Homo sapiens: one gene and its partners. Changing the gene in region 3 together with the main gene of any one other region gives a genetic interaction. Each region holds a gene or a part of one and is shown on either strand. Other genes may lie near its edges. The genes, in order: OGFOD1, XRN2 and EXOSC9.

Region 1 (3,500 bases), on a different chromosome or scaffold from region 3:
TATAACTGTTTGGTTAGAAGCATATGGGTCACAACTTGAACTTGTAATCAGTATCTGAAGTGGGGTTGGGGGAGAGGGCACACTGGGGGCAGTCTCATGGGACTAAGCCCTTAACCTTTATTAATGCCTGGTAGATAGTGTCAGAATTGAATTGAATTTTAAGACACTCAGCTGGTGTCAGAGAATTGGTCAGTGTGGGGGGATAAGCCCACACATTTGGCATTGGAAGTGAAGTAAAGTGTGTAAAGAAAAACAGTTGAGGCCAGGTGCTGTGGCTCATGCCTATAATCCCAGCACTGGAGGCCGAGGCAGGCGGATCACTTGAGGTCAGGAGTTGGAGACCAGCCTGGCCAACATGACAAAACCCCATCTCTACTAAAAATATAAAAATTAGCCGGGCGTGCTGGTGCATCCCTGTAGTCCCAGCTACTCGGGAGACTGAGGCAGGAGAATCACTTGAACCCAGGAGGCAGAGGTTGCAATGAGCCAAGATCACACTGCTGTACCCCAACCTGGGCAACAGAGCAAGACTCTATCTCAAAAAAAAAAAAAGAAAGAAAAGAAAAGAAAAACAGTTGAGCTTTCCATTTTAGTGCTGAAAAACTTGTCTGAAAATCAGTAACTTGGACTAGACCACTGGTGTGATGAGTTGTTATGACAAAGGCCAAACTGCTGCCATGACAGGGCATACTTTAAATTTAGGAGAAAGAAAATACTGAGAAAACATGAACCATTAGAACAAAAAATAACAAATATAATGTAGGTAGAGACTTACATTTATTTTTCTGGGAACATTAGACTTAAACTATGCAAATTTGAACTGAGAAACATTTCTCAGAATGTCTCAAATGAGATCGGAGAATGGATCTCTTGAATACAATGTGATCTCCAGGAAAGAAAAGTTGTGGCCTAGATCCAAACAGTTGTGACCTAGATCCCACACTGTGGCATAACAAGTTATCTTTTGTTTACATTTCTAGGAAAATTCTGTTTGAAGATTTCCGGTCCTGGCTTTCTGATATTTCTAAAATTGACCTGGAATCAACCATTGACATGTCCTGTGCTAAATATGAATTCACTGGTAAGGAAGATAAAGGCCTGGTGTCTGTAAGATATAAAGGCTTTAACTCAGCATTAATGGAGAGATGGTATCTGTGTACCAAAACACTCAACTGAATGTCCCTGCAAAGCATCCGGATCTTCCTGATAAAGACCCAGTTCATAGACAGAAATACCCACCTTATTGGAAGGCATAAGCAGTGGTTGTCTTTCAGAATATGATGAAAGCTACTGACCATATTTTCAGCAAAATCCCCATAACATACATACACACCAACTGTACATACAATATCAAGAAATTCAGAGTGATATATAAACTCTATTCTTAGACTTCCTAAGGAACAACCATCTCCTTCAATGCCATTCTCCCTTCTCTTTTTTATTTTGAAGGCAATAAGTGAATGCATTCTTAAAGGAAAAAAAATCAAACAATATTGCAGGTATATGGTGTAAACCATGATAGCCTTCTTCACCTTCTCCCTGCTCCCTCTTCTCTTCAGAGGTACCTATTGTCACCAGTTTGGGGTGCATCCTTCCATTTCTCTTTCTGAGCATATAAATGGTTTTTTTGGATACAAGCTTGGTTTTTCACCCAGAAGGAAAAGGTTTTTTCTTTTTTAAATTTTACTAAATAAAATAATTCTTTGAGTGTACTCTCATACACTGTCCTGGAAGTATAGATGGCTCACAACTTTTAGAGGATGACTTGGTGATACATAGGAAAAGCCATATCATGTATCTTCATTTACTGCCATGTCATTTCTTTTTTGGGTTTTTTTTTTTTTTTTTTTTTTTTTTTTTTGGTTTGTTGGTTCGTTGGTTCGTTTTGAGACGGAGTCTCCCTCTGTTGTCCAGGCTGGAATGCAGTGGCGTGATCTCGGCCCACTGCATCCTCCACCTCCCGGGTTCAAGTGATTCTCCTGCCTCAGCCTCCTGAGTATCTGGGATTACAGGCATATGCCACAATGCCTGGCTAATTTTTGTATTTTTAGTAGAGATGGAGTTTCACCAGTTGGCTAGGCTGGTCTCAAACTCCTGACCTCAAGTGATCCGCCTGCCTTTGCCTCCCAAAATAGTGGGATTACAGGTGTGAGCTACCATGCCAGTATTTTTTTTTTTTTTTTACTTTGAAGTAATTTCAAACTTGCAGAAAAGTGGCAAGCATAGTACAAATAATTTATTTTTTCCTATTTTACTTGAGAGTAAGTTGTTGGCATGATGTTCTATGACCCCTGAATACTTCAGTAATTTCTACAAGGACATTCTCCTACATGATAATCATAAACCATCAGAATCAGGAAATTTACGTTGATGCCTTATTCCACATCAATGGATTATCTAATCCTCAGGCTCCATTCAGGTTTCATTATTTGGTCCTTTATAGCAAAAGGACCCAGTCCAGGATTGCATGTTGCATTTAGTTATAATATTGTCTCTTCAGCCTCCCTCAATCTAGAACAGCCCCTCCATCTTTCCTGGACTTTCATGATCTTTATGCTTTTGAAGATGTACAGATGAGTTATTTTGGAAAACTTGCTTCAGTTTGGGATTGTCTGATGTTTTCTCATGATTAGATTCAGGCCATATATTTTTGGCAGGATTACAGAAATTAATCCTGTATTCTTTTCACTGTATCAGGTGGTGCATGGTTTCAGTGTGTCACATTATTAGTGATATGAACTTGGATCACTTGATTAATGTGGTGGCTGACATCAGGTTTTTCCACTGTTCTTTTTCCCTATCAGTATATATTTTGTGGGGAGATACTTTAAGATTATGTAAATATCCCATTTCTCATCAAAGTTCGATTTGCTTATTTTAGCATTCTCTGATGTTTCTTGCTAAATTATTACCATGAAGGTTGCCAGATGGTGATTTTATAACACAATCATTTCTCTACATTTATTGTCATTCCACTCTAGAGAAGACCTTTCTCCTGATTTATTTATTCATTCGTTTATATTGGTATGGATTTATGGATTGCTGGTTGTGTAATGAGCTGTTACCAGTTACTATCATTATATTGATGCTCATACTGTCCCTGATTTATCAAGGAGAACCCCGTCAAACTGACTTCTGCGTTCTTTTGCTATGTCCCCATCATTCTTTTTTTTTTCCTACTTTCTGCAAAACAAGATTTTCCAAGCTTATCTTTGTATTTTCCATGCCAACGTCCTAGAATGACCTGGAGTTGGCCATTCTTCCAAAGAATCCTGGTTCCTTTTAGTGAAGAAAGATACTTAACAATCAAGATCTGGACTCTTAAGTGTCTTTGCTATTAGGGTGTCACTGCTCCCAGACCCCTTCAGTTTGAAGAGGTGGTGAATATCTGTATACATGTATATACACATGTGGATGCACACACATACATTTACATTTGGAATGTATTTCTTTTTTTTTTTTTTTAGACTGTCTCTCACTCTGTTGCCCAGGCTGGAATA
Region 2 (3,737 bases), on a different chromosome or scaffold from region 3:
GGCCCAGGGAAGCCAAAAGATTGGACACCCCTGATCTAAGTAGTTGAATTGGCTGACATAAAGTTGTTCATAGTATTTTCTTACTATCCTTTTTTTTTTGTTATTAAAATGTTTTCACTCCTGTTTTTACTTCTCTTTTGTTTTCTTTTTTCTTCCTGTTAACTTGTTATTATCCTTTTAATATTGTTAGAATCTGTAGTGATGTTACCTCTTTCATTCCTGATACTTGTAATTCTACTTTCTTTGTTTTGTCCCATTATCAGTCTGGCTACACTGTTCTCAGATAACTAGCTTTTGGTTTCATTGATTTTCTTTATTGTTTTTCTGTTTTCTATTTCTTTGATTCTGCTCTTATATGTATTTGTTATGCTTACTTTGGGTTTAACTTGTTTTTTCTCTTCCTTGTTTATTAAGGTAGAAGCTGAGGTCATTGTTTTGAGACATTTCTTCCTCTCTGATATAGATCTTGAGTGCCATAAATTGCCTTCTAGATATTGTTTAAACAGTGTGCCACAAATATTAACATGTTGTATTTTCATTTTCATCCACTTAAAAATATGTTCTAAAACTCCCTTTGGCCCGCTGGTTATTTAAGAGTGTGACTTAATTTTCACACACATGGGAGATTTTCCAGGTATTTTTTCCTGTTCGTGATTTTTAATTTAATTCCCTTATCAGAGATCATATTTAATTTGAGGTCTGTTGAAGTTTATCAGACTGGTTCAGAATATGGTCTCTATAAATGTTTTATGTGTATTTGAAAAGGATACATTTTCTGCTGCTGTGAAATTTTGACTATAACTTTTGGATTTTTCTGTTTCTCCTTTCAGTTCTATTGGTTTTTGGTTGTGTATTTTGAAGCTCTTTTATTAGGTGCATAAATGCTTAACATTGTTCTAGTTTTTTGGTGGATAATACACTTATTATGAAATGACCTTCATTATTCTTGGTTAATATTTGCTCAGAAATCTATTTTATTTGTCATTAATACAGCCAGTTATTCTGACTAGTGTCAGCATGGTGTGTTTTTTTCTATTCTTTTATTTTAGCCTGTTTGCATCTTTATGTTTAAAGTGGACGTTTTTGTAGGTAACATAACAATTGGGTCTGGCTTTTTTTTATTTTTATTTTTTATTTTTTATTTTTTTTGAGATGGAGTCTTGCTGTGTCGCCCAGGCTGGAGTGTAGTGGCGCGATCTCGGCTCACTGCAAGCTCCGCCACCCGGTTTCATGCCATTCTCCTGTCTCAGCCTTCCGAGTAGCTGGGACTACAGGCGCCCGCCACCACGCCCGGCAAATTTTTTTGTTTTTTTTTAGTAGAGATGGGGTTTCATTCACTGTGTTAGCCAGGATGGTCTTGATCTCCTGACCTCGTGATCTGCCCGCCTCTGCCTCCCAGAGTGCTGGGATTACAGGCGTGAGCCACTGCGCCTGTCCGGGTCTGGCTTTTTTATACAGTTTGAGAATCTCTGCCCCCTCTTTTTATTGGGATAAAACATACATAAAATTACCATTTTGACTGTTTTAAAGTGTACAATTCAATGGAACCAAGTATGTTCAAATTGTTGTGCAACTGTCACCAATGTCTATTTCCAGAACAATTTTATCATCCCAAACAGAAACGCTACCTGTTAAACAGTAACTCCTTGTCCCCCTCCCCACTTTCTATCTTTATAAATTTGCCTATTCTAGTTACCTTATGTAAATGAAATCATAATATTTTTCCTTTTGTGTCTGGCTTATTTCTCTTAACATAGTGTTTTCAAGGTTTGTCCATGTTGTTGCATGTCTCAGAATTTCATTCCTTTTTAAAGCTGAATGATACTCCCATTGTATATGGGAGTATATGTCACACTCTGGACACTTTGGCTGGTTCTACCTTTAGTCTATTATGAATAACACTGCTATGCACATTGGTGTACAAGTATCTTTTTTAGTCCCTGCTTTCAGTTCTTTTGAGTATGTACCTGTGAGTGGAATCATTGGATCATGTAATTCTGTGTTTAGCATTTTGAGGAACCACCAAACTGTTTTTCTAGTCTGCTTTGTAATTGGGCCATTTAGAACATTTATATTTAAAATGATTATTGATGGCCAGGCATGTTGGCTCACGCCTGCAATCCCAGCACTTTGGGAGGCCAAGGAAGATGGATCATTTGAGGCCAGGAGTTCGAGAGCAGCCTGGACAACATGGTGAAACCTCGTCTCTACTAAAAAAGTAACAAAAAAAAATTAGCTGGGCATAGTGGTACAACACCTATAAACCCAGCTACTCAGGAGGCTGAGGCACAAAATCACTTGATCCTGGGATACTGAGATTGTAGTGAGCTGAGATTGTTCCACTGCACTCCAGCCTGGGCGACAGAGCGAGCCTCTGTCTCAAAAGACAAAAAAAGATTATTGATATGGTTAGATTTAAATCTGTCATCTTACTATTTGTTTTCTGTCTCATCTGTTCATTGTTTCAGTTTCTTAAGTCTTATGCCTTCTTTTAGGTTGTGTTTTTTTTTGTCTTTTTGAGAGGAGTTTCACTGTGTTGCCCAGGCTGGAGTGCAGTGGCGCGATCTCAGCTCACTGCAAGCTCTGCCTCCCAGGCTCACGCCATTCTCCTGCCTCAGCCTCCCGAGTAGCTGGGACTACAGGCGCCTGCCACCATGCCCAGCTAAGTTTTTGTATTTATTTATTTTTTTTTAGTAGAGACAGGGTTTCACCGTGTTAGCCAGGATGGTCTCTATCTCCTGACTTCCTGGAATTACAGGTGTGAGCCACCGTGCCCGGCCTTAGGTTGTGTTTTTATGATTTCATTTTATTCCCTTTGCTCACTTATTAAGAACTCTTTACTGATTCAGTCATCAGCTTCTTCACTTCATATACTTTAACTGCTTGGCTCATGCAGTCCTCCATTTATCAGCTTTCTGACCATCGGAAAATGACTTAAATGCCTAAACTCTAGAGAGCCAGAGCTTCTTGTTAAAACCAAACCCCAAGATTTTTTTTTTTTTTTTTTTTTTTTGAAGACAGAGTCTTGCTCTGTTGCCCAGGCTGGAGTGCAGTGGTGCAATCTCTGCTCACTGCAACCTCTGCCTCCTGGGTTCAAGCCATTCTTCCTCAGCCTCCCAAATAACTGGGACAACCAGTGTGCACCATGACGCCTGGCTAATTTTTGTATTTTTAGTAGAGGTTTCACCACGTTGGCTAAGCTGGTCTTGAACTCCTGACCTCAGGCGATCCGCCTGCCTCAGCCTCCCAAAGTGCTGGGATTAGAGGCGTGAGCCACCATGCCTGGGCCCTAGATAAATTAAATAACACAGTTCAATTGAGCAATGAACAGTTTGCCAGTTGAGTGGCCCTCAGAACCAGAAGAGGTTTGGGGAGCTCTTGAAAACAGAAGTGAGGTACAGAAACAGCTTAATCTTTTGGCTTATTTAAACATGGCCAGATAAGTTGGCAACCTGTGATTGACTGAAGCTCGACTGCTGCGATTGGCGGAGACTCTGCTTTTTGTTACAGAAGTATGCTCCTAAGTTAGGCTTTTCCTTAGTGGACTTTATGTAAGTAATATTGCAGTTCTTCAAGTGAAGAATCAGTAAGGAGCCATCCTCAGGCCAAATTTGGTGTAAGTTAACACACTACGCTACACTGTGCTGCTCCCTACAGTTTCCCCCTCTGGTCATCTCTGTGCAAGGGCTGAAAGCAGAAGGCTGCGTGTCCTCATTTGTTGCCAGCTGGGAATGTGT
Region 3 (3,336 bases):
ATTGCACAGTGTCTAGCACACATTTATTAAGTGTGCAATAAATGTTAGTTTCTGGTATCATCATCATCATCTTTACCAGCATCACAAGTACTACCCAGATTACCCACAGAAAAAGGAAGTTAGTGCATCCTGGAGCATATATGTGTCTGTGGCCTCTTCTGTGGTATCTTTTATACTGTTGTATAAGAAAGTTTTTATGTCTGTTCCCTTGATGTGACAGTCCTTCACATATCTTAAAACAACTTTCACATCTTGCCTTAATCTGTGTTTACATTGTATTCATGTTTGGAAAAGTCAGGCTTAAATTATAAAGGTAGAAAAATTTCATGGTTTTAGTTTCATTAGAGAAAACTATTTGGTTTATTGTCTTTAAACAACAGAATTCACTTTTATAAATAGGTTCTGAGATGCAGTAAAATCGCTGGTGTGAAAGTAGCAGAAATTACAGAGCTAATATTGAAAGCTTTGGAGAATGACCAAAAAGTAAGGTAAGTAACTTTTCCAGAACTAAGTGGTCTTTTATTTTCATTTTTTAAATTTTTATTATTTTTTTTAGTATAAGCAAGCTTTATTATGCATGAACTTGATTTCACATACAAAGTTAGAATGGCAATTTCAATTAAAATTGACTCATTAAAAAGTGTAAATACCATGGTATAGTTATGTTACCCAAAACTCCGAAAGGTAGTGAAACTGGTAACAGATATTGCTACTCATCTTTGGACGGATACAATAAAAGTATTAATGAAACTGGTTCCCAGACAAGTATGTGTCACTTGCTCCTGTGCCTTAGGGAGGAGAGGATGTTATAACACAAGCATTATTGATGCAGTGACTTGTGGATAGTTGCTCCTTATTAACACTGCTAAAATTAGGTTCACGTTTTTTACTTTGTGTGGGAGCTGGTGATTCTTGTCCTTTTGTTTTATGAGGGATATCTTTCAAAGTGCTGGCATCAAACCCACTTATTGCAAAATGCATCACAGATGGGAATTTAAGTCTGGGTCAAGTCCAGAATTCTAAAACAATAAAGAGGAAAGACCCTCCTAAGAGCAAGAGGTCTTCATTAATCCAGACTCCAAGATACAACACAGGGAACAGGAAATGGCCCTAAATGGTCTTTTAATATATTTTTTTTCTTAAGGATCTTCCTTGAACGAGGGCAACCATATAAATTTCACACTTGATCTTTCCTTATTTGTTAATCTGAATTGAGTATACTATTTAATGTGTTTTTAGAAAATTGGACTTGTTATATTTTCTGCAATTTAAATGTAACCTATATTGAAAAATCATATAAGATTTTTGTTTGTTTTTTGAGATGAAGTCTCACTTCTCACTCTGTCACCTAGGCTATAGTGCATTTGTGCAATCTCAGCTCACTGCAGCCTCCGCCTCATGGCTTCAAGTGATTCTCCTGCCTCAGCCTCCCAAATAGCTGAGATTACAGATGCATACCACCATGCCCGGCTAATTTTTATATTTTTAGTAGGGATGGGGTTTCGCCGTTTTGGCCAGGCCGGTCTCAAACTCCTGACCTCAGGTGATCCACCCGCCTGGGCCTCCCAAAATATTAGGATTACAGGTGTGAGCCACCGTGCCTGGAGACATAAGATTTTTCTTTAGCAGTTAACATTTTCTTAGGATAAAAATAATCTAGTAACTCAAATTAATGGAAGGAAACAGGTTGATTTCCATCTCTACCTCTTACTGTGCTATCTTAAGCAAGATACATAACCCAGCATTTCAGTGTCCTCTTCTATAATATGGGATATTAACACTACCTGGTAGGGCTGATTTGAGGGTTAGAGAATAGTATATTTTAAGCACCTAGCACATGGTCTGGCACGTGGTTTAATAAATGATTATGCTAACTATTTACTCTTGTTAGGCATAATAAATTGGTGAGGTTAAGTTAGATAAACTAACTCTCTTCCAATATTTTTCATCCACCAAAGGATAAAATAATAGTTTTTTTCCCTTCCTGTCTTCTATCCAATCTGTTACCTTCCTCCCCCTTCCTTCCCACCAAAAAAACCCCCACATACAGGAAAGAAGGTGGAAAGTTTGGTTTTGCAGAGTCTATAGCAAATCAAAGGATCACAGCATTTAAAATGGAAAAGGCCCCTATTGATACCTCGGATGTAGAAGAAAAAGCAGAAGAAATCATTGCTGAAGCAGAACCTCCTTCAGAAGTGTATCTTTATTTGGTGGTTTTTGCAGTAACAAGATTCATAACACTTGGCATTATAATATTAGGCTATATGAAGGATGTGTATACTGAAATTAGTTTTTGTAAACACTGTACTTTGTTAGAGAAAACACTTAAAATACAAGATAGAGATGTGAGTCATATTCTGTTGATGGTATAACATTCAGCTTCTATTCAGTTATCCTGGAAAAAACAGATTTTAAGGACCAATTTAATTTAGTACTATAACTAAAATGTTGAGAGAATCTGTCTCTTCACATTTCTTATTAATTGCATCCATAAAATCTTGCCTGAGTTTTTTTTCTTCTTCATTGTTCAGCCATCCATAGTGTAGCTATATTAAGTTTTTTTTCCCCTAGGAACTTGGGGCACACTTGAATCAATCTTACAAGAAGAAAACTTTCATTCTCATCTTCAACAGTTCATCAAATAGCAATATTTTTGTTACTCAGTTTTCTTAACTTGTTAAGTGTTTCTACACCTGTGCTATGGACTCCTGGAACTGCCCAAATTGGAGAGGGAGTAGAAAACTCCTGGGGTGATCTTGAAGACTCTGAGAAGGAAGATGATGAAGGCGGTGGTGATCAAGCTATCATTCTTGATGGTATAAAAATGGACACTGGAGTAGAAGTCTCTGATATTGGAAGCCAAGGTAGGTGACACTTTATGGCACACTTACTATATATTACATACATATAGTATTACCGTATAGTTATATATATAATGCATAAAATGTGTGTATATTTATATTATCACTGTATATAGTAATATATAGCATATTAGCTATATAGAGATGTATAGTGGATAAATAACATACAGGATACTATATAGAGAGAATATAGATATGTAGTTATATATAGGGATGTAAGTATTGCATTTTTAGAGGGGCTAAATATTGTGATTTAAATTTCAACTAAATTATTGTGGCTAGCTGCAATACTAATGCTACTTTCTAAAAGAATATGCATATCTTTGTAGAGTAGTGGAACACTGGCATAAATGATAGTGATATTTTTAATTAAAAAAATTTTGTGTGTGTGTATGTATGTGGGTGGGTTTTAAGGGAATGAGTTTCTTGAAGATCTTATTCCTCCCTGCTGTCTTTTTTTTTGTAGTTTCTAGAC

What was found.
Region 1: changes in EXOSC9 (region 3) and OGFOD1 together harm fitness less than expected from each alone (positive genetic interaction), as found in Homo sapiens cells (one large-scale study listed by BioGRID).
Region 2: changes in EXOSC9 (region 3) and XRN2 together harm fitness more than expected from each alone (negative genetic interaction), as found in Homo sapiens cells (one large-scale study listed by BioGRID).

What each region holds. Positions count from the first base shown.
Region 1 is NC_000016.10:56,461,554-56,465,053, forward strand, and holds part of OGFOD1 (prolyl 3-hydroxylase OGFOD1), read left to right. Parts: intron 1-980; coding exon 981-1,081; intron 1,082-3,500.
Region 2 is NC_000020.11:21,309,614-21,313,350, forward strand, and holds part of XRN2 (5'-3' exoribonuclease 2), read left to right. Parts: intron 1-3,737. UniProt on the Homo sapiens protein: Possesses 5'->3' exoribonuclease activity. May promote the termination of transcription by RNA polymerase II.
Region 3 is NC_000004.12:121,811,184-121,814,519, forward strand, and holds part of EXOSC9 (exosome complex component RRP45), read left to right. Parts: intron 1-399; coding exon 400-488; intron 489-2,050; coding exon 2,051-2,197; intron 2,198-2,682; coding exon 2,683-2,864; intron 2,865-3,336. UniProt on the Homo sapiens protein: Non-catalytic component of the RNA exosome complex which has 3'->5' exoribonuclease activity and participates in a multitude of cellular RNA processing and degradation events.